Homo sapiens: one gene and its partners. The protein of the gene in region 2 interacts with the protein of the main gene of each other region in a biochemical or structural test. Each region holds a gene or a part of one and is shown on either strand. Other genes may lie near its edges.

What was found.
Region 1: the proteins of HIP1 (region 2) and CLTB form a complex in vitro, tested with the Homo sapiens proteins (2 studies listed by BioGRID, with this or other methods).
Region 3: the proteins of HIP1 (region 2) and CLTC form a complex in vitro, tested with the Homo sapiens proteins (3 studies listed by BioGRID).
Region 4: the proteins of HIP1 (region 2) and HTT form a complex in vitro, tested with the Homo sapiens proteins (2 studies listed by BioGRID).

What each region holds. Positions count from the first base shown.
Region 1 is NC_000005.10:176,406,537-176,413,561, reverse strand, and holds part of CLTB (clathrin light chain B), read left to right. Parts: intron 1-2,084; exon of another isoform or gene 2,085-2,255; intron 2,256-2,738; exon of another isoform or gene 2,739-2,934; intron 2,935-3,258; coding exon 3,259-3,305; intron 3,306-6,853; coding exon of another isoform or gene 6,854-7,024; exon of another isoform or gene 7,025-7,025. UniProt on the Homo sapiens protein: Clathrin is the major protein of the polyhedral coat of coated pits and vesicles.
Region 2 is NC_000007.14:75,735,940-75,743,261, forward strand, and holds the start of HIP1 (huntingtin-interacting protein 1), read right to left. Parts: upstream 3,003-7,322; 5' UTR 2,982-3,002; coding exon 2,862-2,981; intron 1-2,861. UniProt on the Homo sapiens protein: Plays a role in clathrin-mediated endocytosis and trafficking. Involved in regulating AMPA receptor trafficking in the central nervous system in an NMDA-dependent manner. Regulates presynaptic nerve terminal activity.
Region 3 is NC_000017.11:59,678,889-59,685,913, forward strand, and holds part of CLTC (clathrin heavy chain 1), read left to right. Parts: intron 1-508; coding exon 509-631; intron 632-2,023; coding exon 2,024-2,169; intron 2,170-2,406; coding exon 2,407-2,590; intron 2,591-2,758; coding exon 2,759-2,951; intron 2,952-3,382; coding exon 3,383-3,540; intron 3,541-3,740; coding exon 3,741-3,905; intron 3,906-4,018; coding exon 4,019-4,126; intron 4,127-4,206; coding exon 4,207-4,374; intron 4,375-4,498; coding exon 4,499-4,648; intron 4,649-4,736; coding exon 4,737-4,868; intron 4,869-4,986; coding exon 4,987-5,097; intron 5,098-6,167; coding exon 6,168-6,338; intron 6,339-6,698; coding exon 6,699-6,920; intron 6,921-7,025. UniProt on the Homo sapiens protein: Clathrin is the major protein of the polyhedral coat of coated pits and vesicles. Two different adapter protein complexes link the clathrin lattice either to the plasma membrane or to the trans-Golgi network.
Region 4 is NC_000004.12:3,126,672-3,133,696, forward strand, and holds part of HTT (huntingtin), read left to right. Parts: intron 1-592; coding exon 593-933; intron 934-3,252; coding exon 3,253-3,376; intron 3,377-3,633; coding exon 3,634-3,752; intron 3,753-4,614; coding exon 4,615-4,726; intron 4,727-4,966; coding exon 4,967-5,104; intron 5,105-5,890; coding exon 5,891-6,049; intron 6,050-6,142; coding exon 6,143-6,240; intron 6,241-7,025.

The DNA of each region.
Region 1 (7,025 bases), on a different chromosome or scaffold from region 2:
GTGCTGACACTGGGCTCAGTTGCCCCTGGGGAAAGAGGTATCTGGTGTAGGCCTGTGCTGGAGCCACAGGGAGCCCCTCCTCTCTGGCTGGATCTGTGGCCCTGGGTGATCTGGATGATGGACACTTTGTTTCCATTCATCAGCCTTGGGTAGGTTTCCATTTTCACACCCAGTTTTCTGAGCACCAGGCCTGGCTCTGACTTGCCTGTCAGTTCTGGGCAAGCCCATTTCCCCCGCTGGGCCTCGTAAGCTCACAGGAATGTTCTGGACCCTCTCTGCCCTTGTTCCAAAATGGGTCAGGCAGCTGAGGGAAGCAAACCCTCAGGGGTTTATCCCTGGGACGTGTCTCTGTCTCAGTCCTGTTCTGCTGGCCTGTGAGTGTGGACTCCCGGTGGTAGATGGGCAGTGGGTGGGTGGAGAGCACTGTGGGAACAGGTACTTGGAATGCTGTGTAGGTGTGTGTGGACTCTTAAGGAGGCCGAAACTGCATGTCCAGAGGAACACTCTCGAGGCTGAGGCAGAGAGACTTTCTGAAGGTCAGGGTAGACCCCAGGCAGCTGTGTGTAGATGTGGGGTCTGAGACTGGGGTTGGTCAGGGCGGAGTAGGGTGGTGCAAATTCTCGAGAAGGCCAAATGTACAGACCGGCATCACAGGGAATAGACCCTGGTAACGTGAGGCCCTGCTAGAGGAGACACCCCAGCAGAAGAAGCCCCTTTGCAGAAGATGCTGCCACTGAAATGCTATTGGTCCCACTGTGATTTAGGGGCCAGGACACCCATGCAGGAGAAGCCTTATCTGAAGGAATGGGAGTGACAGCTGACAGAGTTGGTTGGAATCAATCACTGGTTGACTCTGAAAGCAAAGTCAATTATGATTTATGTCACCCGGGGATTATTTCCATGGGATTAAGTACCCTTCCCTTGAGTCCCCAGGCCAAACACACTGTCGCTGCTCACAGCCCTGTCTGGCTGGTGAAGGGCTATTTGTCCATCTGCCTATTAACCTCATGTGGCCTCCATGGCTTTTTGCTAGGAGGCACAGCAGTTTCTGAGAGCCTTGCAGATAACAGCAGGCCTCAAAACAACAATTCAACTTCCATTTAGCCAATAGTTACTGCTCACCCATTCCGTGCTGGAGCCCTGAGGAGCTGAATAGGACACGGAGCCTGGTAAGGGGGTACACACGGACCCTGGGGGTCATGAGTAATTGCACAAGAGGGTGCAGGATACTGTATGATATCCTGGGATACCCCGGAAGTGAGACCTTCCGTAAGTGCCTAGGGAAGTAAAGGAAGCAGAGGAGGGCTTCCCAGAGGAGGTGACTTATGAGCTGGACCTTGGAGAATAAATGGAGCCAAAAAAGCATTCTTTTTTTTTTTTTTTTTTTGAGATGAGTCTCACTCTGTCGCCCAGGCTGGAGTGCAGTGGCGGGATCTCGGCTCACTGCAAGCTCCGCCTCCCGGGTTCACACCATTCTCCTGCCTCAGCCTCCCGAGTGGCTGGGACTACAGGCGCCTGCCACCACGCCTGGCTAATTTTTTGTATTTTTAGTAGAGACGGGGTTTCACCGTGTTAGCCAGGATGGTCTCGATCTCCTGACTTCGTGATCTGCCCACCTCAGCCTCCCAAAGTGCTGGGATTACAGGCATAAGCCACCACGCCCGGCCCAAAAAAGCATTCTTTAGAGAGGGAAGCAGGAAGAAAGCATGGGGATGAGGGTGGTGTGTTTGGAGAAGGAGGAAACCAGAATTTAGGGTTTGTGGGATGGGCTGGTGGGAAGTGAGTCAGGAATGGGCAGGGCCAGATTGTAGAGATCCTCATGTTCCAGGGTTAGATGTACTTATCTGGCAAATATTTATTGAGTCCTTGTTATGTTCCAGGGACTGTTGTAGGTGGGCCTCATCATGGATGAAACCAAGTCCACACCCTCATGGAGGGTCTGTTTGTTGGGGGAAGACAGATAATAAACACATACACAAATAAACACAGCAGGCTGTAGTAAGTGCGCTTAATACTGCAGGAGGAATAGGAAGGGGTGCCCAAGGGGTGGATGGGGGTGTGGTCAGGGAGGCCTTTAATTAGGCAGCATTTGAGCAGAAGCTGAAGGGAGTGAGGGAGCAGCCTTCCAGGCAGAGGGAACAGCACCTGCAAAGTCCCCAAGGCAGGAGTAGGCGCTATAGGCCACTGTGGTCCATGGGAAGTGGATTTCTTTGGAGTTTGTTTTCATGACATTTTGAGTCAGAGGAGAGGCACAGGTAAGTGCATGTTTTACAGACTGTCAGCCCTGGCAATTGGTTTGAAAGAGGGATGGGAGAGGCTGGAGTCAAGGGGGCCTGTGAATGGGCAAAAGCCATGCAGTCGTTGTCTTTCTTTCATGCATGTATTTACTTGTTTATTCAACAAATAATTATTGAGCACCTGCAAAGTCACAGGTGCATGCAAGTCTCTGGGAAAGACACAGGAGAAGAGAAAGAGACACAGTTATGTCTTCCCAGGTGTTTGCCCCTAGCGGGCAAAGCAGTTGTGCAGGTGCAAGGTGGTGAGGTCCTGGGCTGGGGCTGAGCTGCGGGAGAGAGTGGAGGGCAACTGTGAATGTCAGTGTTGTAGCAGAAGCCCCAGGAATTTGTGACTAATCAAATGTCAAGGAAAGGGACAGGGAGGAGTCACTGCTGAGGGCAAACTTAATTCCTTCTGGGAGGGGCACAAAGAGAAAAAATATGCCAGGTGCTTCTGGTGGGAACTGCAACTCCTGCTCACCCAGGAGGAGCAGTTGCTCAAGGCGCCTCAGGGACAGGCAGAGACGCGTAGGCCCCTCTCTTCCTTATCCAGTGTAGCCCCTGCCCTGAGCTTACAGCAGCTCAGCCTACTCACCAGGCACAGGCTTCACAGGTAATCTGGCCATTCCCAGCCATGGCCAGGGGTCAGTGATTTCAGGTAGGTAAGGAGCTATTACTGGCTGGGTGATTTTGAGCATGGCCTCTCTGAGCCTCAGCTTGAGTATCTGTAAAATGGGTTGACAACAATTTCATTGCAGGGCTGTGGTGAACATAAAATGTACTAATGGCTGTGAGAGGCTTTATAAACAGTCAGGGGTGGGATTGAGCCTAAGTTATATATATATCCATTATGTCTGTTTGCATGTGGGTCGATATATACATGGGTATACACAGAGTTTGGGTTGAGGGGCTAATGTAGGACCATTTCCTGCTTGCTATAAGCTAAACAGTGAGTAATGCTATCTCCTTGTTCTCTTTCCAGCTGGTTCTGAGGACATGGGGACCACAGTCAATGGAGATGTGTTTCAGGTAAGCAAGGCTCTGTCTCAGCAGTGGTAAGGACCAACAGCCCTGGTCTCAGTAACCTAAAGCCTCATTGTTGTAGGCTTACAGCTCCAGGTTCTCCTGTTCATTATGTCTGATGCATTGGGGTGGAAACATAGAGAAAGGTTTTTGGAATTTTTTTTGTCATGTAGAGGGCAGGGAAGAAGAATAAGGACCACTAGAGATCGAGATTGATGGGCAGTAGCCTCAGGTTGCCCATGGTGATGTCTGGTTTTGGGAGGGAGAGGTCAAGTGGCCCACAGCAGCATGAGATGAAGGCAGCGCAAGGCCTTCCCTCACCACTGACGGGAGGCAGAACCCAGGCCATCTCCACACACAGGGCGGGCCCTTTGATCCAGAGATTCCACTTCCAGAATTTTCCCAAAGGAAATAATTGGACAAGGCCACCCAGATTCTTTGCAGGGTTATTTATAATGGCAGACAATTTGGAGACAACCTAAGTGTCCAGCATCAGGGAACTGAATAGATAGATTAGAAAACCAGGCTGTTGTTAAAAAGGGCAATCAGGGCCGGGTGCAGTGGCTGACGCCTGTAATCCCAGCACTTTGGGAGGCTGAGGTGGGTGGATCACGTGAGGTCAGAGTTCAAGACCAGCCTGGCCAACATAGTGAAACCCCGTCTTTACTAAAAATACAGAAAATTAGCCAGTCATTGTGGCAGGTGCCTGTAATTCCAGCTACTCGGGAGGCTAAGGCAGGAGAATCACTTGAACCCAGAAGGTGGAGGTTGCAGTGAGCTGAGATTGTGCCATTGCTCTCCAGCCTGGGAGATGAGAGTGAAACTCTGTCTGAAAAAAAAAAAAAAAAAAAAAAAAGGGCAATCAGATCTTCCTGTATTGACGTGAAAAGATGTCCACAATATATTAAGTGGAAAAAGCAGCTTGCAGAATAATATACACAGTATGGTCCTTTTTTTTTTTTTTTTTTTCAATTTTAAAAATATGTTTGGGCTGGGCGTGGTGGCTCATGCCTGTAACCCTAGCACTTTGGGAGGCCAAGGCAGGTGGATCATGAGGTTGGAAGATTGAGACCATCCTGGCTAACACGGTGAAACCGCACCTCTACTAAAAATACAAAATTAGCTGGGTGTGGTGGCACAAGCCTATAATCCTAACTACTTGGGAGGCTGAGGCAGGAGAATAGCTTGAATCCGGGAGTGGGAGGTTGCGGTGAGCCGAGATCACGCCACTGCACTCCAGCCTGGGCAACAAGAGCAAAACTCTATCTCAAAAAAATAAAACTAAAGGTTTGCACTACATATCTGAAAGGATGTGTACCAGCTGTTAACAATGGTTAGCCCCAAGGGTGGGGTGGGATGGGGATAAGAAAGGGGCATTCACTTTCACTGGGTTGTTTACAAATTCTTTAAGTGTTTTTATCCTGCAAAAAACGAGGAAAACCCAGCCGGGCACGGCGGCTTACGCCTGTAATCCCAGATTTTGGGAGGCCAAAGTGAGAAGATCATGTGAATCCAGGAGTTTGAGACCAAACTGGGCAACATAGTAAGACCCCATTTCTGCAAAAAATGAAAAATTAGCTGGGGCAATAGTGTGTGCCTATAGTCCCAGCTACTCAGTAGTCTTAGGTGGGAGGATTACAGCTTGAGCTGGGGAGGTCCAGGCTGCAGTGACTATGATTACACTACTACACTTAGCCTGGGTGAGTCTTTTTTTTTTTTTTTTCCTGAGATGGAGTTTTGCTCTTATTGCCCAGGCTGGAGTGCAATGGCACGATCTCGGCTCCCTGCAGCCTCCGCCTCCTGAGTTCAAGTGATTCTCCTGCCTCAGCCTCCTGAGTAGCTGGGATTACAGGCACCCGCCACCACGCCTAGCTAATCTTTTGTATTTTTAGTAGAGATGGTGTTTCATCATGTTGGCCAGGCTGGTCTCGAACTCCTGACCTTCAAGTGATCCACCCACCTCGGCCTCCCAAAGTGCTGGGATTACAGGCACGAGCCACCGTGCCCGGCATGACAGTCTTAAAAAAAAAAAAAAGAGGAAAACCCTAGTAAGTGTATTTCTAGTTAAGACTGCTTCTGTCCGCACCCACCTAACTCTCTTCCCCTTGCATACACACAAATCCATTTTAGTACTCTGAGGGAACTCAGACCACAGAGGCATGCAATAGTCCTCACCTCGGCCCCCCAGCCAGATGCCTGGTGGGGCTAAACCTCCCCTCAGAGCCTTCATTCCCACTCAGACTGGGCCAAAGAGCCTTGATCCTGGGGTCTTTGGCTGTGGGATCTTCTGAGCCCCGCCCTGGAGGAGCTGGCTTCTTGAATCCTCTGGGGGAGTAAACAATACTTATTTTCTTATGTAAGAGGGATGGGCTGGTACCTTATGCAGGGAGACTGGCCAAGTCCTGTTTCTGGAAAATTACTCAACTATCAGCAAGCTGGAAAAGTCCATCTCTAGGACTTCAGCAGCTTCATGTCTAGTTGGGCCCGAGGGAGTCAAAGAATGAGGATTTGCTTCTGTGCAGCTTGGTAGATCATTAAGACTTAGGCTGCCCAGGCTCTCTGGCCACATTCAGAAGGACTTTGCTTGACCCCACAGTTCTGTGTCCTAAAGTGCACCTGGAGCTGGAGATATGCTTGGAACCACAGAAGTATGTAGAACATGGCCGGGCACAGTGGCTCACGCCTGTAATCCCAGCAGTGGGAGGCTGAGGTGGGTAGATCATTTGAGGTCAGGAGTTCAAGACCAGCCTGGCCAACATGGAGAAACCCTGTCTCTACTAAAAATACAAAAATTGGCTAGGCAGGGTAGTGGTTGCCTGTAATCCCAGCTACTCAGGAGGCTGAGGCAGGAGAACTGCTTGAACCCAGAGGCAGAGGTTGCAGTGAGCTGAGATCGCACACTGCACTCCAGCCTGGACGACAGAGCGAGACTTTGTCTCAAAAAAGAAAGTACCTAGAACACTCTGAGCTGGATCATTTACCTTTCCTAAAGATTAGCATCACGAAGCTCAGAGAGGTGAAGTGGTGAATGCAAAGTCACCCAGGAAATCAGCCACTTCTGGAGTGCACCCCATTTGACTTGGCCCCCCGCCTTCTCCCTCCCGACCTGTCAGCCGTGGGTGAGCTGTGGGTGAATCTGAGGAGCCCGGGGCCTCCTTTCCAATCTGAGTGAGAACTCTTATTCTCACTGTTACTAAGAATCACAGCAGGTGTGTTTATTTGTAAATCATATCACATCAGTGCCATCCGAGAATCCTTACAGGCAGGGCAGGGTCACAGATGAGCTGAATCACTCAGAAGCTTAGTGGCAAAGCCCCAGCTTGCCTACATCTCCTGGGCTCCGACCCGGTGTGCTTTGCATTACGACTCTGTTGCTGGAACTGGCTGGCCACAGCGCCTGGGTCACAGGTGGAAAGCCCCAGCTCTTTAGGATTGAGCATAGCAGGTCTGGCCTGCACCTGCAGGGGGAGGAGAAACCTTGGCCTGTGCACACCCAACACTTTCAAGGATCCCAGACAGAGCTTTTGTGCTTCCTTTCTTCCTCTTTTCTGCAGCCCGTGCACCACCAGCGGGTCCAGCTACAAACCCAGTTGCCAATACAGCCTAAGGACGAGCCTGCCCACAACTATTCCAGTTCCATTTGGCACAGCCAGGGGCAGGGACAGAAGGGCCCTGCAGGACTCCGCCTCCCCACCTCTGCACAGATCCTCTCTCCTTTCCCCTAAT
Region 2 (7,322 bases):
TCAACACCAGAGGCTGGGTGCAGTGGCTCACACCTGAAATCCCAGCACTTTGGGAGGCTGAGGTGGGAAGATCGCTTGAGGCTAGTTCAAGACCAGCCTGGGAAAACACAGTGAGACCTCCGTCTTAAAAAAAAAAAAAGTTAAAAATAAGAGTTTCAACATCAGAAAAATTCTCTTTTTCTGCTCCACTCTACTTCACCCCCACCCACCCCACCCAGGTCAAATCTGGCCAATCACAAATGTCCCACAGAATGTAAAACACCAGAAAACACTGACCTAGACTCTCCTGTTGGGCCGTCCCTGGATAGCAGGGAAACATACCACTCACGGGTGGAAACTTTCACAAACCTAATTTCTATCACTATTATGGGTCAAAGTCTTACGCATATTTCTCTATTGCTCTAGTTTTTACTTATTTGAGACTCTAGAAGGAACGGGTTGTTAAAAAATAATATCTATTTATTTTCTTATTTCATTTATTAAAAAAAAAAATAGGGCTGGGTGCCATGGCTCATGCCTGTAGTCCCAGCACTTTGGGAGGCAGAAGCAGAAGAATCACTTGACGCCAGGAGTTTGAGACCAGTCCGGGCAACACAGTGAGACCCCCATCTCTATGAAAATATAAAAATAAAAGGAATATACACACTGTTTCATGGAGCAAGAAGCCTCATGTAACTAGGCAGCTAGCAGAGGCACTAACATCCAAGACCAATGGAAAACTTCCTTCTTTTCAGGGGTCGGGTCCATGAAACCAGAGAACAAGCCTCAAACCTAGCTGGATCCTGGGAGGCAGAAGTGAAATGACCATTTCCCACTTCCCTCCTGGGGTAGGATAACCAGGTAGAGAAGACTCCCTGCTTCACACCATCCAGACACACCTGCATGGAGGCACTTTCTTTTTTTCTTTTTCTTTTTTTTTTTTGTAGAGACAGGGTCCCACTGCTTCACACTATCCAGACACACCTGCGCGCGGTTTTCTTTCTTTTTTTCACTTTTTTGTAGAGATAGAGTCTCACTCTGTCACCCAGGCTGGAGTGCAGTGGCACGATCATAGCCCACTGCAGCCTCAGCCTCCTGGCTCAAGTGACCCTCATGCCTCAGCCTCTCAAACAGCTGGGACTATAGGTGTATGCCACCACACGAGGATAATTTTAAAATTTTTTCAAAATAGAGGCGGGATCTCAGTGTGTTGTCTAGGCAGGTATCGAACTCCTGGGATCAAGTGATCCTCCCACCTTGGCCTCCCAAAGTACGGGGATTACAGGTGTGAGCTAATGCACCCAGCCTAATTTTTTTATTTTTTGTAGAGACAGGGTCGCACTATGTTGCCCAGGTGGGGGGCCAAAGGTTTTCAGAATAAGAAGAGGGGATGAAGTCCTCTGGGGGTGAAAAGCTTTATTCTTTTTTATTATTATTATTTTGAGACGGAGTTTCGCTCTTGTTGCCCAGGCTGGAGTGCAGTGGCGCCATCTCGGCTCACTGCAACCTTCACCTCCCAGATTCAAGCAATTCTGCTGGCCTCAGCCTCCCAAGTAGCTGGGATTACAAGCGTCTGCAACCACGCCCAGCTAATTTTTTGTATTTTTAGTAGAGACAGGGTTTCACCATGTTGGCCAGGCTGGTCTCAAACTCCTGACGTCAGGTGATCCACCCGCCTCGGCCTCCCAAAGTGCTGGGATTACAGGTGTGAGGTACCGCGCCCGGCCAAAAGCTCTATTCTTTGAAAGATTCCATATACAGAACCTTCAGTCAGATTCTCACTGTCTTTTCTAACTAAAATCCCAAAGCCCTTTCCCTCCAACTGTGTTTGGGGGAAGTATTCCTCGCATAACACATCAGGGGACCAGCCTCTGGAGAGGGGGACCCAAATGGATCTTCAAAGGTTCCACTCTGAGCACAAGAGTGTAGAAGAAATCTGCCCCTCCAGCATTGGCACTGGGATTAAAAGAAGCGTTGTACTCTTTGAAATGGATTTTACATACAAATGAATTGATGAACACCATCAACATGTCAGCTTAATTCAGCCCAATCAATACACCAGGCATTAAAAACTCGGAGAAAAAAATGGATTGTGGCTTTTTGTTGATGACACTGAGGAATTTTGGCCCCAAGCCCTGGCCAGGCAGGACAAATAGGGCAGTCTGCCTATTAGCTGTCAGGCACATCTTGGGGGATAAAACCAAGACCCCAAGTCAGGGCTCAGGGGCACCATGGTCTCCACTTTAGCCCCCAAAGTAATTTTCCCACAAAGTGGCCACACTTTGCATTTCCTACATTCCTTTTCCCTGCTCCGACCCCTTCCGCCCGGCCTCAGAGCTGACAGCTGGGGCTGGCCAGAGCCAAGCAAGAGGCATCGAGAAAGGGGGATGCTAAGGGGTGGGGGGTGGGAAGGGATGTCAATGCAACCAAGAAGTGATCGGAGGGGAAGAGAGGTCCCCTCACCCTTCACATTCCCAGCCCGGCGCCCCCACTCTCCGCCCCCACACTTGAGCCTCCAAGTGGCTCCCGTGCGCTTCCCTTGTTTAGGGGCAACCCTTCCATTCCGCCCCTTTTCAGTTCCTTCCCCTCTCACCTCATCTTGGGACTCCTGCCCGGTACCCAGCCGATCAGGCTCCTCTTGGCCACGCATCCTGCCATCTCCTCCGAGCCCGCCTCTGCCCTTCTCCCCAGGCCAGCTGGGGTACCCTGGGGTCCCCGACCTTCCTGGGATCGCCCAGATCTGCACGTCAATGCCCCCGCTCACTACACCCTCGCCCCGTCTTCAACTGGGGCCTGCAAGACTCCTACTCCCTTCAAAGCCCCTCCCGGACACCGCGTCCCTCAGGGTGCCCCAGGGATGCCCCGGGGTCCCCCGTCCTCACCTGAGTCCGCTCGAAGCTCTCGCGCTCCGCCGCCTCCAGCCCAGCGCCGACCCCGCGCCGGCTCAGCACCTTGGGCAGTGGGTTGGGCACCTGCTTCATGGAGCTGGCCATCCGATCCATGTCGCCGCGAGGAGCCGAGTCAGGGGCCCTCGGCTGCCCCGGGATCCCCACGGCGCCGCCCGCCCCGCCCTACCCGCGGGGATCCGGCGCTAACGGGACGGCTCCCGCCTGCCATTGGCTGTGAGTTCTGCCAGTCTTCCAGAGACCCCGCCCCTCGCCGAACGGCTTCCCCGCCCGCCCCCGCCCCTTCAGGAGCCCCTCCGCTGGCTCGGCCCCGACTAGCCTCTCGGGGCCTCGAGGCGCGTGGTGACTGGTCTGGAGTCCTGTCAGTCACCGTGGTCCCGCCGTTCTAGGCAGGGCCGGGGCGGGGTGCGGACGGGGCGAGGCCTGGATGGGGCGTGGCCTGGGCGGGCTGCCCTGATATGCCCTCGCTCGCCCCGCCCCCGCCCGCGCACCGCCCTCTCCTCCCCTCGGCCGCAGTCCCCGCGCGCCCCGAGCGTGCTGCCCTCCGCCAAGCGCCGCCCACTACCCTGCCCGCTCCTGCAGGGGGCTATCCCGCGACGGCCCGTGGAGATGGGCGGGGATGACGCGGGCCGGGCAGTGGGGCCTCCCCCGGGGGAATCCCAGCCCGCCTGCGAATAGCCCGTTAGCTCCTTCCGGGCCTGGGACCCGGGAGCGCCGGACTGACCAGCCCTGCGGCCGCAGCCCGGGAAAGCGCAGCCCCGCGGGCGGGGCGCAGCGTGGGCGCCTGGCCGGATCCGGCTCAATGGGTGGCCGCCCCCACCCAGCTCCCAGGCTTCCCCGTCCTGCACTTCTCCATTCTGCCCCTGCCCATGCCCTCTGCAAGGATCGCAGAGCCCAGGTCCCGGAGTTCGGGGCTGAGTCCGCGGGCACCTCCCGGGACCTGCCTCCCAAACCTCATCAAAGGAACCCGTCAGAGCTTATTTGTTGGTAGAAAGCCCTGTAGACACTTTCGGTTTATCTTAGGCTCTGAGCCGCGCGTCCCATCCTGCTCAGACGTCAGCCAGGGTACCAGCAAGCAGAGAGAAGTGTGATGCTTAGCAGGAGTGCTGGAGAAAGTTAAAAGTTTTCCGTTAAACTCCAATTTAGGTGTGTTTTTGTTTTTGTTTTTGTTTGTTTTTTTTTTTTTTTTTGGTTTCATTTGGAGTCAGTCTCCCTCTGTCGCCCAGGCTGGAGTGCAGATCGTAACACACTGGGACCTTGAGCTCCTGGGTCCTAGCGATTTTCCTGCCTCGGCCTCTCGAGTAGCTGGGACTACAGATGCACGCCACCAAGCCTGGCTATCTTTTTTGCAGAGATGGAGTCTTTCTATGTTGCCCAGACTGGTCTCGAACTCGTGGCCTCAAGCAAGCCTCCCACCTTGGCCTCCCAAAGTACTGTGATTACAGACATGAGCTACAGCACCCGGCATAGATGTATTTTTTAAAAGTTATTTGAAACTCGGAGTAATGAATGGCACCTTTAGGCCTAACAATTTGGTGATTCGTGTGTGTGTGTGTGTGTGTGTGTGTGTTGTAAATTTGGCCAGGTGCGGTGGCTTACACCTGTAATCTCAGCGCTTTGGGAGGCTGAGGCAGGCGGATCGTTTGAGCTCTGAACTTTGAAACCAGCCTGGGCAACATAGCAAGACTCCATCTGTACAAAAAATTTTAAAATTAGCTGGGCGTGGTGGTGCAAGCCTGTAGTCCCAGCTACTCACAAGGCGGGAGGATTACTTGAGCCAGGGAGGCAGAGGTTGCAGTGAGCAGAGATCGCGCCACTGCACTCCAGCCTGGGAGACAGAGCGAGACCCCGTCTCAAAAAAATATATACATATTTCTTTGTAGTGAGGGGTATGTTGCTGGATTGCCCAGGCTGGTCATGATCTCCTGGGCTCAAATGATCCTACCACCTCAGCCTCCCAAAGCACTGGGATTACAGGTGTGAGCCACCCTGCCCTGCCTGTTTTTTTTTTGTTTTTGTTTTTATTTTTTTTAATAAGAGCGTTTGGTAAAAATTCACACATTCAATAGAGAAGTGAAAGAGGGGTGGGCATTTGCGGTTACTAAGGAGCCACTGAAGACTTTTGCTCAGATGTGTGCACTGAGGAGCTTGTATTGTGGGGATGGATTATGGGGGCCTGATGGAAGGGAGGAAATCAGTGGGGAGACTCTAGCGTAGATGAGAGATGATGAGGGCCTAGAAGAGAAGGGAGAGGAGGAAGTTCTGTCCCGTGGGAGGTTACGCAAATAAGGCTTGGACACAGGGATTGGGGGATGGGCAATGGCGGTGCCATTCAGGCTACATTTGCATAGGAAGGACTGGACTGGTTTCACCTTTACTTAAATTGTGTTTCTGTGGGAGGCTTTGGGAGTGCCCCCTCCCTTGTGTTGCTTTGGGAGAGATTAGATGTCACCTGATTTTTCATGTCTAGGGAGAGGGAGATGACAACTGAGCGTGGGAGCACGGTAGGGGCGCTGACAGAGGAAGAGGAAATTACCTTGGCCGGGCACCGTGGCTCACACCTGTAATCCCAGCACTTTGGGAGGTCGAGGCGGGCAGATCACTTGAGGCCAGGAGTTCAAAATCAGCCTGGCCAACATGGTGAAATTCTGTCTCTACTAAAAAATACAAAAAAGTAGCCAGGTGTGGTGGCATGTGCCTGTAATCCCAGCTACTCGAGAAGCTGAGGCTGGAGAATCACTTGAGCCTGGGAGGCGAAGGCTGCAGTGAGCTGAGATCGCACCAGTGAACTCCAGCCTGCATGACAGAGTGAAACTCTATCTCCAAAAAGCAAAAAACAAAAAACAAACAAACAAAAATCTCAATTTTTAAAAAACATTTATTTATTTAGAGATAGGGTGTAGTGACTTCCTGCTGTTCCAGCAAATCCTGGTGCTTTGCCAATTTACCCGTCCTGGTTGATTCCCCTAACTCAGGTCACACCTTTGTACATAGTTTCTTCCTTTTTTTTTTTTAAGAGACAGACTCTCGCTCTGTTGCCCAGGCTGGAGTGCAGTGTCGCAATCTCAGCTCACTGCAGGCTCTGCCTCCCAGGTTCAAGTTATTCTCCTGCCTCAGCCTCCCAAGTAGCTGGGATTACAGGTGTATGCCACCATGCCCGGCCAATTTTTGTATTGTTAGTACAGACAGAGTTCCACCATGTTGGCCAGGCTGGTCTCGAACTCCTGACCTCAAGTGATCTGCCCGCCTCAGCCTCCCAAAGTGCTGGGATTACAGGCATGAGCCACCATGCCCATCCATGTCTGGCTAATTTTTAAAAAATTTTTTGTGGCCGTGCCACAGTGGCTCATGCCTGTAATCCCAGCACTTTGTGAGGCCAAGGCAGGCAGCTCACTTGAGGCCAGGAGTTCGAGACCAGCCTGGGCAACGTGGCAAAACCCCGTCTTTACTAAAAATACAAAAATTAGCAGGGTGTGATGGCACGCGCCTGTAATCCCAGCTATTTGGGAGGCTGAGGCACGAGAATCGCTTGAACCCTGGAGGTGGAGGTTGCAGTGAGCCAAGTGTGATGGTGCACACCTGTAATCCCAGCTCCTCAGGAGACTGAGACGGGAGGATCCCTTGAGCCCAGGAGGTCGAGGCTGCAGTGAGCTATGATTGCACCCCTGCACGCCAGCCTGAGAGACCGAGACCCTCTCTCAGGAAAAAGAAAGAGAAGGAACTATGTACAAAGGTGTGACCTGAGTTAAGGGAATCAACCGGGACAGGTAAAGCACCAGATATTACTGGAACACCAGGAAGCTGTTACCATCTCTAGACCTAAAGAGAAAAGGGGAGGGAGCTGTGCTGTAACCTGGTGGGGGCTCTGGTCATGGGAAAGTAGGCATTTTCCCAGAGCTGTGACCTTAGGTAGAAAACCCACAGTCACTGTGGAAAGTGGCGTGGCAGGGAGGCAGCTGGGGGATGAATACCCCAATCTCTCTCTCTCTCTTTTTTTGTTTTTTCACGACAGGGTCTCATTCTATTGCCCAGGCTGGAGTGCAGTGGCACAATCTCGGCTCACTGAAACCTCCGCCTCCCGTGTTCGAGTGATTCTCTTGCCTCAGCCTCCCAAGTAGCTGGGATTACAGGTGTCCACCACCACGCCCGGCTAACTTTTGTATATTTTTATTTATTTTTATATTTATTTATTTATTTATTTATTTATTTATTTATTTATTTATTTATTTGAGACAGAGTCCTGCTCTGTTGCTCAGGCTGGAGTGCAGTAGCGGGATCTCGGCTCACTGTAGCCTCCACCTCCCAGGTTCAAGCGATTCTCCTGACTCAGCCTCCTGAGTAGCTGGGATTACAGGCGCCCATGACCAATTCCTGCTAATTTTTGTATTTTTAGTAGAGACAGGGTTTCACCATGTTGGCCAGGCTGGTCTTGAACTC
Region 3 (7,025 bases), on a different chromosome or scaffold from region 2:
CTACCCAGAAAGCTGAGGCAGGAGGATCACTTGAGCCCAGGAGGTCAATGTTGCAGTGAGCTATGATCGCAACACTGCACTCTCCAACCTTGACAACAGAGCAAGACTCCTACTTTCTGAAAATATTAGAAGTCAAGATCTGAGCTTTAGTGTATTTGCTTCTAAGATCTTTCAGTGGTCAGGGCTTAGTTACATTTATGTACATACATATGCTCATTTATGTACATACATGTGCATATACGCATGGAAAAATAAACACACAAGAACAGCTAGTAAAACACTGAAAACTGTAAAAGTGGACTAGTCCTACCAGATGTTGAACTGTGTATTACAAAGTCTATATAATTAAAACAGTATATTACTGGTACATGAATCAAAGTCCAAAACTAGATCCAATATCAGTAAGATTATCAATAAACATAGTTTAAAAGATAGGAAATACCCTCTAAAATGCTATAAAAAGTCCTTTACTTTTTACCTTGAAATTAATCTATCATATCTTCTTTAGGTTTGCAATGAGAATTCCCTCTTCAAAAGTCTTTCTCGCTACCTGGTACGTCGAAAGGATCCAGAATTGTGGGGCAGCGTGCTGCTGGAAAGCAATCCTTACAGGAGACCCCTAATTGACCAGGTAACATTGGCAAATGTGTTTATGGCTGTCAGTAAAAATTATACATTTTTAACTATGAATACAATCCTTTCCCTCATCATGTACTCAAATGGATCATATATAACTATGAGAGAAAGCAATACAAAGTAGAAGAAAATTAAAATTTATATATATTCAATTTACATTCATTTGTATATAATGAATGTAAATTGATTATATACATTATATACAAATGAATGTACATTTATATAAGTATAAATATGTATATAACATACATTAAGAAAAATAAGCCATGTGCGGTGGCTCACGCCTGTAATTCCAGCACTTTGGGAGGCCGAGGTGGGTGGATCACCTGAAGTCAGGAGTTCGAGACCAGCCTGGCCAACGTAGTAAAACCCCATCTCTACTAAAAATACAAAAATTAGCCAGGTGCATGTAATCCCAGCTACTCGGCAGGAAAATCGCTTGAACCCGGGAGGTGGAGGTTGCAGTAAGCCGAGATCACGCCATTGCACTCCAGCCTGGGTGATAAGAGCAAGACTGTCTCAAAAAAACAAAAAGAAAAAAGAAAAAGAAAATACATCCCAAAAGACCTGACTTAATTATATAAAACTCTCTTGGTTCATCATAGTTTAAAAGGAAAATAACAAACTAAACATTAAAGATTGCTATTATTAACACTTAAGTGGCTAAATTGATTGGAAACTTCAAGATAATAAGTCAGAAAAATATAAGGATAAGAGAAAATACAAAAGACCAAGTGCATCAGTGTTATATCTTACTAATAAGAAGTATAGAACTGCAAATGAGATGGGGTTTTATACCTAAATAAAATAGACAACATATTTTAAAAGTTCTAAAAATAGAAGAGTTGTTATAATGAGTCTTAAATTCTCCTGAGATAAGTATAAATAAAATATTTTGGAAACGAATAGGTTGAAGGCTATTAATATTTCATTCCTTTCCTAGGAAGCACTTCTAAGCAACATTCCCAAGTAGTTACAAAGCTTCCTAGGGGAAGGTTGTGGGGGTGGGGGCGATGGTTGGAAATCATTGCAGCATCTAGAAAACCAAGCAAATAGCCAAAACCAGACGAATTACCGATATTTTAATTCCACATCTGTGTAGCTGAATTTTGAATTATGTGTAGCCATTAAAGTGATAATGATGATTGCTAGCCTGGATAATGTTTTAATCAGGGAAAAGATAGAAATTATATAATTAGAGTAATTTTTCAACACAATTATACATATTGTATAGATTTGTGTAGAAAGACCTCTCTATGTAAATTTAAAGGTCTTTTTCCTACTTCATTCTTTTCTGCCTATTTCAAGTTTTCTAATGAGAGGCCAACTTACGCTTTTTTAAAACCAACTTGATTCTCAGTACTTATGTCCCATATATCCTCTGTAGGTTGTACAAACAGCTTTGTCTGAGACTCAGGACCCTGAAGAAGTGTCAGTAACTGTAAAGGCTTTCATGACTGCAGACCTTCCTAATGAACTCATTGAACTGCTGGAGAAAATTGTCCTTGATAACTCTGTATTCAGTGAACACAGGTATGCTTTCAGAGGGATCCATTGGCTATTTATAGTCAGTCTTTAATAAATTATGGCCCATCAGTTTTGGGAAGGAACAAAAAGATCAGAGAAAGTTGCCTGAATTCTCACTCTTCTAATATCCTCCCCCCTACCCTACCTCTTGAGACAAAAACCTCTCCGTTAGTCACAGTGGTTATTTTTTATGTCGGATAAACTTAAAATATTGCATTTAAAATATTCTTTTTTTTCTTAAAGGAATCTGCAAAACCTCCTTATCCTCACTGCAATTAAGGCTGACCGTACACGTGTTATGGAGTATATTAACCGCCTGGATAATTATGATGCCCCAGATATTGCCAATATCGCCATCAGCAATGAGCTGTTTGAAGAAGCATTTGCCATTTTCCGGAAATTTGATGTCAATACTTCAGCAGTTCAGGTAAATCTTCAGATTACCTAAGTTGAATTACTAAACACTGTGCTATGAGGGTGGGCCTAATTGGTTGCTACGGCAATAGAGCAGCAATAAAATACTAACAGCTTAAATGTAATTGCTTTGGGTAGGATTGATTTTACTCTAACCCTAATTTCAAACTTGGATACTTAGGTCTTAATTGAGCATATTGGAAACTTGGATCGGGCATATGAGTTTGCTGAACGTTGCAATGAACCTGCGGTCTGGAGTCAACTTGCAAAAGCCCAGTTGCAGAAAGGAATGGTGAAAGAAGCCATTGATTCTTATATCAAAGCAGATGATCCTTCCTCCTACATGGAAGTTGTTCAGGCTGCCAATACTAGTGGTATGACTTCTTACCTTATGTATTGAAACCTCATAAAATGATTAAGCTAAGCATTAAGATATCTGTCTATTCTGAATTTTAGAAGAGTTGGATACTGCATGGTTTCTTTTAGTGCTCCATCTTAGTCCAGATAAAAAGAGGCTGTATTTTGTGAATTTGTAAGTTCACAAAACTTACAAGTGGGGAAGATGAATCTTCTGTTTTTGAAGTCTCATAAAATCCTGATAGTGCTCTAATCTTAAAACTTTAAGGAAAAAGAATTCATCTATTCATTTGGTCCGTGATAATACAGAAGTGAAATATTGCACGGTTTACATTTGTCATTATCCATGTTTCCTTGAAAAGGAAATGAATGCAATTTTCATTTACTTGGGTGAAAGATAAACTAGGATGTTAGTGTTTGGATATATTTTTTCTTTTTCTATACTTAGGAAACTGGGAAGAACTGGTGAAGTACTTGCAGATGGCCCGTAAGAAGGCTCGAGAGTCCTATGTGGAGACAGAACTGATATTCGCACTGGCTAAAACAAACCGCCTTGCAGAGTTAGAAGAATTTATCAATGGACCAAATAATGCTCATATCCAACAAGTGGGTTTCCTTTTCAGATTTAAGAAAAACTAGTTGGGCTACTTGATTAGCTTGGTAGGATCAAAACATCATAACTGAAGAATTCCAAGGAAAAATCTATAGGAAAACAAATTCTTTCTCATTGTGAAGATATCAATTTGAAAAGAGGATTAAGCTCACACTAATATCTTGCTGAATGTGGGTTACCTTTTTTTTTCCAGGTTGGTGACCGTTGTTATGATGAAAAAATGTATGATGCTGCTAAGTTGTTGTACAATAATGTTTCCAATTTTGGACGTTTGGCATCTACCCTGGTTCACCTGGGTGAATATCAGGCAGCTGTTGATGGGGCTAGGAAAGCTAACAGTACTCGAACATGGAAAGAGGTAATCTAAACCCAAGTTTGAGTGAAGAATTAAAGAAACGCTATTTAAACATTAGTTTAAATAACTAGCCATGTTTTACATTTGAGTTCACAGAAAGGAAATGTTTATTCTAGGTCTGCTTCGCCTGTGTAGATGGGAAAGAATTCCGTCTTGCTCAGATGTGTGGACTTCATATTGTTGTACATGCAGATGAATTAGAAGAACTTATCAACTACTATCAGGTATTAACGAGACTTTTATATGACCTGAGATCTTTTACCATAGATATTCTTATCTTTAACTGCACATTTCTCTTGTTCAGGATCGTGGCTATTTTGAAGAGCTGATCACCATGTTGGAAGCAGCACTGGGACTTGAGCGAGCTCACATGGGAATGTTTACTGAATTAGCTATTCTATACTCTAAATTTAAGCCTCAGAAAATGAGGGAGCACCTGGAGCTGTTCTGGTCTAGAGTGAATATTCCCAAGGTAACCAGTCATTGTAACACAGTGAAGCAACTGTGTAGTTAAAACTAATGCTTCAAAATATCTTATTCTTTTTAAGGCTGTTAGCTAGACTCATATCTAAAGCAATTAAGTCTTTCTTATGCAGGTGCTAAGAGCTGCAGAACAAGCTCATCTTTGGGCAGAACTGGTGTTTTTGTATGACAAGTATGAAGAATATGATAATGCCATAATTACCATGATGAATCATCCAACTGATGCCTGGAAAGAAGGGCAATTCAAAGATATCATTACCAAGGTGTGTACTTTCTTCAGAAGATAAAGGATTCAGAAGGAGAAAGCTCATTAGGAAGTAACTGACTTATGTATGGATTTTCCCATTGTAGGTTGCCAATGTGGAACTATACTACAGAGCAATACAGTTCTACTTAGAATTCAAGCCTCTGTTGTTAAATGATTTGCTGATGGTGCTGTCTCCACGGTTGGATCACACTCGTGCAGTCAATTATTTCAGCAAGGTAAAGTAATAATTTTAAACCAAAGCTTCATAGCAAGGAATTAGGACATACTTCGATAACTTTTGTCCCTGGGACTTCAATAATGTGCTATATTTGTAACAAACTCTTTATTTTAAAGGTTAAACAGCTACCACTGGTGAAACCGTATTTGCGTTCAGTTCAGAACCATAACAACAAATCTGTGAATGAATCATTGAACAATCTTTTTATTACAGAAGAAGATTATCAGGTAAAACCTTTTGATTCTTGCACATAATCTCAAGACTCATAAAGTTATGTTTTCCCATTTTTTAAAAAAGCCATTATCCTTTAGGATTGTAAACAGTAGGTGCTTGCATACCTAGGATCTAAATTTAGTAAGATTTCAGGATTGATAAATCTTCTAATTAAGTGCCAAGTTTTCAGAATTTTGCTCAGATCTTGTATAAGATACTGCTTTTGAAAAAAATGATATGATTACTTTATCTCTAACATCTAGATTGTAGGTAGAGTCAAAAATGTCTTTGACCACTTAACTAATTCATAAAATTTATTTGGTATTAACTATATTTATTCACCATTTTTCTTGCCTACTGTTTTATTAGTGTTTGTATAAACTTTCTCTTATGAAGGATTTCACAAGCAAAAGTGAAGTAGAGTTAAGCTTAAGCTACTTGCCTTTTTTTCTCTCTCTTCATTTTCTTTGAGGCTCAGCGCATGCAGATCTGTACTGCTGCCATGCTGAGTTTTATCAGAAGTTTCTCTAGAGCACAGAATCTTGCCCTCCATGCCAGGCGTGGTGACTCACGCCTGTAATCCCAGCACTTTGGGAGGCCAAGGCAGGCGGATCACGAGGTCAGGAGATCGAGACCATCCTGGCTAACACAATGAAACCCCGTCTCTACTAAAATACCAAAAAAATTAGCCGGTTGTGGTGGCACGTGCCTGTAGTAGCAGCTACTCGGGAGGCTGAGGCCGGAGAATCGCTTGAACCCTAGAGGCAGGTTGCAGTGAGCCCAGATTGCATCACCACTGCACTCCAGCCTGGGCAACAGAGGGAGACTCCATCTCAAAAAAAAAGAAAAAAATCTTGCCCTCCAAATTAGAAATATTGTCCATTTCATAGCCATATGTTAGTCCTTGATAGTGAAAATCTTGGAGAAAATGGTATCTTTAGGTAAAATGAAAAATCATACCTTTTGATGCTTGAATCTAGGTGTCATATTACATGTTACCATCTAAGGGGCTCATTGATTGAGAACGGAATATAATGTTAAACAAAATACTGATCTGGCATTTGGATGGCTTTTTTTTTTTAAGGCTCTGCGAACATCAATAGATGCTTATGACAACTTTGACAATATCTCGCTTGCTCAGCGTTTGGAAAAACATGAACTCATTGAGTTCAGGAGAATTGCTGCTTATCTCTTCAAAGGCAACAATCGCTGGAAACAGAGTGTAGAGCTGTGCAAGAAAGACAGCCTTTACAAGGTTGATAAAGTTGCGGGGCAGGGGCTGTTTTAAACCAGGCCTAAAATGGTGTTACAAGTGATTATAATCTATAAATAAAAGTATTGGTTTTGTGAATATGAGAGCTGACTTTAAGGCAATTTAAGTTAATGGATTTCTTGATTCTAGGGGCTCTCTTATGTTAAGGTCAAACTTGTCTGGGGAAAAAAAAGCTTTTAGCTTATCTCTTCTTTGAAAATTTTAATTTAAATGATACAACTAGGAGGCTTTTTTCCCCTTGCAAAACCAGATTTATATTGGAAAGTTTCCATTGTTTTTCTTGGTTTACTAGTTCAGTATGTGGGGTCTAATGTTTTTGACTTTCACTATTTCTTTGAATAGGATGCAATGCAGTATGCTTCTGAATCTAAAGATACTGAATTGGCTGAAGAACTCCTGCAGTGGTTTTTGCAGGAAGAAAAAAGAGAGTGCTTTGGAGCTTGTCTGTTTACCTGTTACGATCTTTTAAGGCCAGATGTCGTCCTAGAAACTGCATGGAGGCACAATATCATGGATTTTGCCATGCCCTATTTCATCCAGGTCATGAAGGAGTACTTGACAAAGGTAATGACTCTTCTAAGTGTATTCAGAACTAGTTTCCTTGCATGTAAAATTCTACATGCACATTAATTTTTTTAAATGCTTTTTTCTTTAGTAGAAGTAAGTCAT
Region 4 (7,025 bases), on a different chromosome or scaffold from region 2:
ACTGCCAACAGCTTCATGTCGACCTTTTTGCCATAATTTTTATATAGCCTTTTTTGTTTTTAAATGGTAATTTAGAAAGTCAACTAGGAAAATGTGTTACAGGTTTATCTTCCAGGAGAATAGGACTGGAGTCGAGATCTTGAATGTGGCTTGGAAGAAGGCAAGCCCACCCCAGAGAGATGAGTTGACAGTTGTTTCTGACCACTGCTTGCTTAGAGGGCCTGCGTGTCTGTGACCGCCTAGCTTTGCGCCCCTGACTAGGCTGCCCCTTAATTACAAATGTCTTTATATATTGCTCCAGCTAAGGCTTGGAGTAGTCGGTTAAGAACTTGAACTTCGGTTTTTGCAGTGAAACAGCATTTGAGAATATCACCTTCTGATAAGCCTTATTTTATAAGGTGGGTACTGTAGTGGGAGGCAGTGTGAGAGATGCTTGAAGGATGCACTGCTGTCCTGCATTTCAGCATCTTCAGGATGCTGTGCAGCTGAAACATTTGATAACGGTGGAACTGTTCGTTATTTTGCAAGCCTGTGATTCCCTATTGAATGTTTTCTCTCGCCATTTGACAAATGAGTGTTTCTCTGTCTTCAGCCTCAGTGAAGGATGAGATCAGTGGAGAGCTGGCTGCTTCTTCAGGGGTTTCCACTCCAGGGTCAGCAGGTCATGACATCATCACAGAACAGCCACGGTCACAGCACACACTGCAGGCGGACTCAGTGGATCTGGCCAGCTGTGACTTGACAAGCTCTGCCACTGATGGGGATGAGGAGGATATCTTGAGCCACAGCTCCAGCCAGGTCAGCGCCGTCCCATCTGACCCTGCCATGGACCTGAATGATGGGACCCAGGCCTCGTCGCCCATCAGCGACAGCTCCCAGACCACCACCGAAGGGCCTGATTCAGCTGTTACCCCTTCAGACAGTTCTGAAATTGTAAGTGGGCAGAGGGGCCTGACATCTTTTTTTTTATTTTTTATTTGAGACAGAGTCTCACTCCATAGTGCAGTGGAGGCCGGGCACAGGGGCTCATGCCTGTAATCCCAGCACTTTGGGAGACTGAGGCAGGCGGATCACTTGAGGTCAGGAGTTCGAGACCAGCCTGGCCAACATGGTGAAACCCTGTCTCTACTAAAAATACAAAAATTAGTTGGGCGTGGTGGCACATGTCTGTAGTCCCAGCTGTTAGGGAGGCTGAGGCAGGAGAATTGCTTGAGCCTGGGAGGCAGAGGTTGCAATGAGCCGAGATCGTGACACTGCACTCCAGCCCGGGCAACAGAGCAAGACTCCATTTCAAAAAAAATAAAAAAATAAAGTGCAGTGGCTCGTTCTCAGCCCACTGCAACTTCTGCCTCCCAGGCTCGAGCGATTCTCCCGCCTCAGCCTCCTGAGTAGGTGGGATTACAGGTGGGCACCACCACACTCAGCTAATGTTTGTATTTTCAGTAGAGACAGGGTTTCACCATGTTGGCCAGGCTGGTCTCAAACTCCTGACCTTAGATGATCCACCCACCTTGGCCTCCTAAAGTATTGGGATTATAGTTGTGAGCCACCATGCCCGGCCCTGCCACCTGCCATCTTTTGAGTTCTTCCCTGGAGACCTAGACCTGAACCCTCCTGCTTGTTCTCTTGTTATCTAATACCCCTATTGACAGCGCAGCTTAGATCATTAATGGAGAGCTTGACCTCATCTGATACCTTCACTGAAGGAAACAACTTAGTGTCTTTTGTGTTGAACACTGAGGTAAAAAATTGGAATAGTTGATTATATGAACTCTGCTAAAATTGAGTGCATTTTACATTTTTTAAGGCCTTGTTGGGCCCTGGTTAAATAATTATTTTTAAAAATCCTTAAGGAGCCTATTATAAACAGATCTGTGGTCTTAATGAAATGTGATTAATACTGTGCATTATTTTAAGAACTTTTGACTTTTCAAAAAACTTTTACAACATTTCCCATTTGATAGCGGCATAGGTTTAAGCACTTCTCATCTCTAAGTTAGTGGACAAAAAACCCTCATGGATAGTCTAATAATGTTTGCTACAAGTCCATGTTGAGTTTTATACTCCATTTTATTTTCAGTTTTAAAAACTGTGGTTAAATATGTGTAACATAAAATTTATGTTCTTAACCATTTTTTGCGTATACAGTTCGCTGGTATTAAATACATTTAAATAATGTCATGGAATCATTGCTACCACCCATCTCTGTAACCTTTTGATCATGTAACACTGAAGCTCTGTTCCCATTGAACTCTATTCCTCCTTTCCCGCCAAGTCCCTGGCAACCACGATTCTTCTTTCTGTCTTCTGAATTTGACTACTTTGGGTTCTCATATACTTTAGGAGTCACACAGTATTTGTTTTACTTAGCATAATGTCCCCAAAGCTCATGCATGTTGTAGCCTATGTTAGAACTTCCTAATGTTTCAGGCCAAATACTATTCCATTGTATGGATAGGCCACATTTTGCTTTTCCATTCCTCTGTCCATGGACACTTGTATTGCTTCATGTTTTAGCCATTGTGAATCATGCTGTTATGAACGTGGGTGTACAGATAGCTCCTGGAGACTCTGCTTTCCATTTTTTTGGCTAAATACCCAGAAATGGAGTTGCTTTTACATTCCAATTTTAATTTAAAACATTCATATCATTGAGTGTTTTACTTAATAGTATAGTAGTTAACAAACTTAATAAAATAGTATTTTGGTAATAATTTGCTGGTAGTCCATTGTTCAGTTTTTTTAGGTAAATTACACAGGACATTTCAAGTGGACATGAAACATCTTGTGATGTGGAATCATGCCCCAAGCTGATGGCTAAACATATGAAATACCATACCCTAAATTTAGTAGATTTAGTCTTTGCAATTTAGGAGATAACCTGTTATATTGTTAGGTTTTTGTCGAAAAGCTTTGTCCTCATATTTCCAACTTGCTGTAAAATTTGTTTGTGAAGACAAATATTTTTGTATGGGTTTTTTCTTTTTCATATTAAAAAGAAATGTCCACATTGGAATTTTTTTGGAGTTTTTAGAGCTAATAGAGCTTTTCATAATGTAGTGGGAATGAGTGATCAGTAAGCTCTTAGCAGTTTCCATGCGTGCATTTCTGTGCCTTGAAATAAATGACAGATGAGTACATTTGTGTTCTGTGTGTAAAATGTGCTCTTTCCTCATTGCACTTCCATGTTGGAGGGCTTGTCTCTTGGTGATCACACTTCAAAATTCTCACAGCCCCCCTTGAACCGTTTAGGTGTTAGACGGTACCGACAACCAGTATTTGGGCCTGCAGATTGGACAGCCCCAGGATGAAGATGAGGAAGCCACAGGTATTCTTCCTGATGAAGCCTCGGAGGCCTTCAGGAACTCTTCCATGGGTATGTGGACTACAGGTGATGCGCTACAAAGTGGTTTGTATTCAGACCTGGACATCTTAATTATATCTTTGCTTCCAAGAAGAAGTCCTTTGATACTGTTTTCTGAGTTCTGAATAGCTGATGAAAATGACCAATTGAGGAATAATCATACTTTTTCTTGATCTAAATCTTATACTTTTGAGTTATCTTAGCATAAATGTATAATTGTATTTTAAGTGGAAATTTGTCACTTAATCTTGATTTCTCTGTTTTTAAAGCCCTTCAACAGGCACATTTATTGAAAAACATGAGTCACTGCAGGCAGCCTTCTGACAGCAGTGTTGATAAATTTGTGTTGAGAGATGAAGCTACTGAACCGGGTGATCAAGAAAACAAGGTGAGGGACATAGGCTTGAGACGACTTGGTGTTTCTGAGCTTGTGTGAGGATTTAAAATCGCCCTGGCTACTGTCTACTTTATTGCTTTCCCATCCCTGGGCCTTTAAATTTCCCCTTTAAATACCAGCTCTTCCCAGGCCTGTTGTTTTCTGCCTTTCCAGGTACTACCCACAGCCTTGAGAATTGCCTGAGTTCTGCCTCCTTTGAGAGTGTGCCCCAGACAAATCTATTCTGTACTGAATGTTTCCTTGTCTGATTTCTTGGATCATTCATTTGATGGTTGCGTATGGCCTGCAACGTTTCTTGTTTTGGTTCTACTGAACTGTTCTAAAAGTCTCTCTTCATATTATCTTTTTACATGTAAATGTAACTGTCTTCACTTTTAATTCCTCAAGGACAAGGAATAGCGTTTCACAGTTCGTCCCATCAATCAGAATTATAGCCTTTGGCATCTCCCTATCTACCAGGCCCACTTCCTCTTAGATTTGGGCTTCCCCAGGCTGTTGCCTTTCCCCAAGTAGCTTCTGCTTGTCCTGTAGAAGACCTTTCATGCTTTGCTTCTGCAGCAGCCGTTCCTGAATGCCTAGTGTCAACTGCCTTCTTACCACGCCCACCCTCCCTGCATGCTGCATTTATCCCCTGCCACAGCCCTGTGACCCTGTGTCCTGCTGCCTCTGACTTGTCTGTTTCTGCTTGGCCATGGTCTCTGTGAGGTCAGGTGTGCATATGGGCACAAACCAGGGCATCTCTTTATCCCCAGCACCTGGCTTAAGTGCTGCTCTGGAACTATCTGTTGAATGAACTAATGCATGAATGTATTGTTGAGTATGAGACAAACAAGTGTCATTGTCTCCTTTCTAGCCTTGCCGCATCAAAGGTGACATTGGACAGTCCACTGATGATGACTCTGCACCTCTTGTCCATTGTGTCCGCCTTTTATCTGCTTCGTTTTTGCTAACAGGGGGAAAAAATGGTGAGTACAAAAGGGGATGTGCACAGTTGAAGGAAATAACTAGGTTTCAGAGGTCAGCTTGGTGGCCTGTTTTTGCCTTGCGTGCAGCAGAGGAAGTAGAATCTGAGGATGAGTTTGGTTTTCACTAGCCGAGGGGAGGGAGGAAATGATGGGAGCAGGTAGGTTATTGGGTCTGGTTTTGTTCATTTGAAAACAATCTGTTGTTTGAGGCTGAAGGTGGCTTGGGTGATTTCTTGGCAGTGCTGGTTCCGGACAGGGATGTGAGGGTCAGCGTGAAGGCCCTGGCCCTCAGCTGTGTGGGAGCAGCTGTGGCCCTCCACCCGGAATCTTTCTTCAGCAAACTCTATAAAGTTCCTCTTGACACCACGGAATACCCTGGTATGTTAAAAGTTCACATCTTATTTTCTCAGATTTAATCATTATTGTAAAAACTATTTCAGTATTGACTATTTTAGTTTTAGAGCAGTAAGTGTTTTGAGTTCATTTGGGATATTTGACCTGCGTTGTAGCTCTTCAGAAAACACATGAATAGTGAAGTTCTTTGTTTCATGGGTTCCCTTTAGATGAAACCCATAGAGGAGAAAAGTAGAAACCTCAGCACGTAAGAGCCAACATATATACACATCGGATTTAAACCTAAAGCACAAATTGTGCCTGGTCGCAGTGGCGCTGAGTCGCACTCAGCCAGGCCAGGCATTCACACTCAGGGTGAGTGGGAACCAGGACTGGCTGAGGCAGCAGTGGACCCAAGTCTCCATCGCGCCCATGCTTACTATGGAGCCTTCTCGTTCTCTCTTTTTCTTTGGGTGAGAGGGTACACTTGTGTTTTTGAATTTATATGAGGTAAGTGTGTAATAGGGTTTTTTCTAATCTTTTTTAAGTGGAATCTGGAATTTTAATCAGATTTATTATCTGACAACCTAGAATTATAATCCAGAAAGTCTGTGGTATTGAGGACATATTGGCAATATGATGAATCTCTAATTCTTAAATCCTGAAACTTTTTTTTTTTTAATCACTTAGGGTTATTATAGTGAAGTCATTTCTGAATTTGGATCTTCTCTTCACACCTCTTTTTCTCTTTCCTGAGAATTAAGCTTTTGTTTCGAGTTAGAAAGTTGATAGTAGGGAATTGTTCCATGGCTGAGCAATTTATCTCCACAGAGGAACAGTATGTCTCAGACATCTTGAACTACATCGATCATGGAGACCCACAGGTTCGAGGAGCCACTGCCATTCTCTGTGGGACCCTCATCTGCTCCATCCTCAGCAGGTCCCGCTTCCACGTGGGAGATTGGATGGGCACCATTAGAACCCTCACAGGTAACGGCCAGTTTTTCAGCTGTGTTTTTTCTAGTTATGCTTACTAAGGTTTAAGTTTAGATGATGATGTTTGTTGCTTGTTCTTCTGGTTAGGAAATACATTTTCTTTGGCGGATTGCATTCCTTTGCTGCGGAAAACACTGAAGGATGAGTCTTCTGTTACTTGCAAGTTAGCTTGTACAGCTGTGAGGGTGAGCATAATCTTCTGTGGAACCATTTCTTCACTTAGTGGACATTTTATCATTGCTACAATTAAAATTGGAGCTTAATAGGAAATATTTCCATGCACTCTAAAGCTGTAACCAGTAATACCCACCATGTATCCATCTCTCAGCTTTAGAAAGAAAACGTTGCCAGTAAAGTTAATGCTTCATAAACTTCAGTTTAAGTTCTAATTCTCAGAATATTTGTTTGAAATAGACCTCTTCCTAAAGGATATATTTAGAAATAACCTATCATTAAGTGTAAAGTCTGTTGAATATGCTGGGCACGGTGACTCACACCTGTAATCTGACCACTTTGGGAGGCCAAGGTGGAAGGATTGCTTGAGCCCAGGAGTTCAAGACTATGGGCAACATAGTTGACCCTGTCCCTACAGAAAATTAAAAAAAAAAAAAAAAAAAGTAGCTGGGTATGGTGGTGCATACCTGTAGTCTCAGCTACTCGGGAAGCTGAGGTGGAGGGGGGATTGCTTGAGCCCCAGAGATCAAGGCTGCAGTAAGGCGTGGTTACACCACTGCCCTCTAGCCTGGGCAACAGAGTGAGACTGTCTCAAAAATAATAGTAATAATAATCAGTTGAATTAAAAAAAAAAAAAAAAAAACCACTGTGCTAGGCCCATAGTATGGTAAGAGTTAAAGTGAGCCTTAGGGATTATTTACTCAACCTCTGTTTCTGTATAAAGTGGAATAGGCTCAATTCTTTAAGTGATAGCATGTTGAACCTTTCCATACCAACTGGCTCATAAGTCACAACT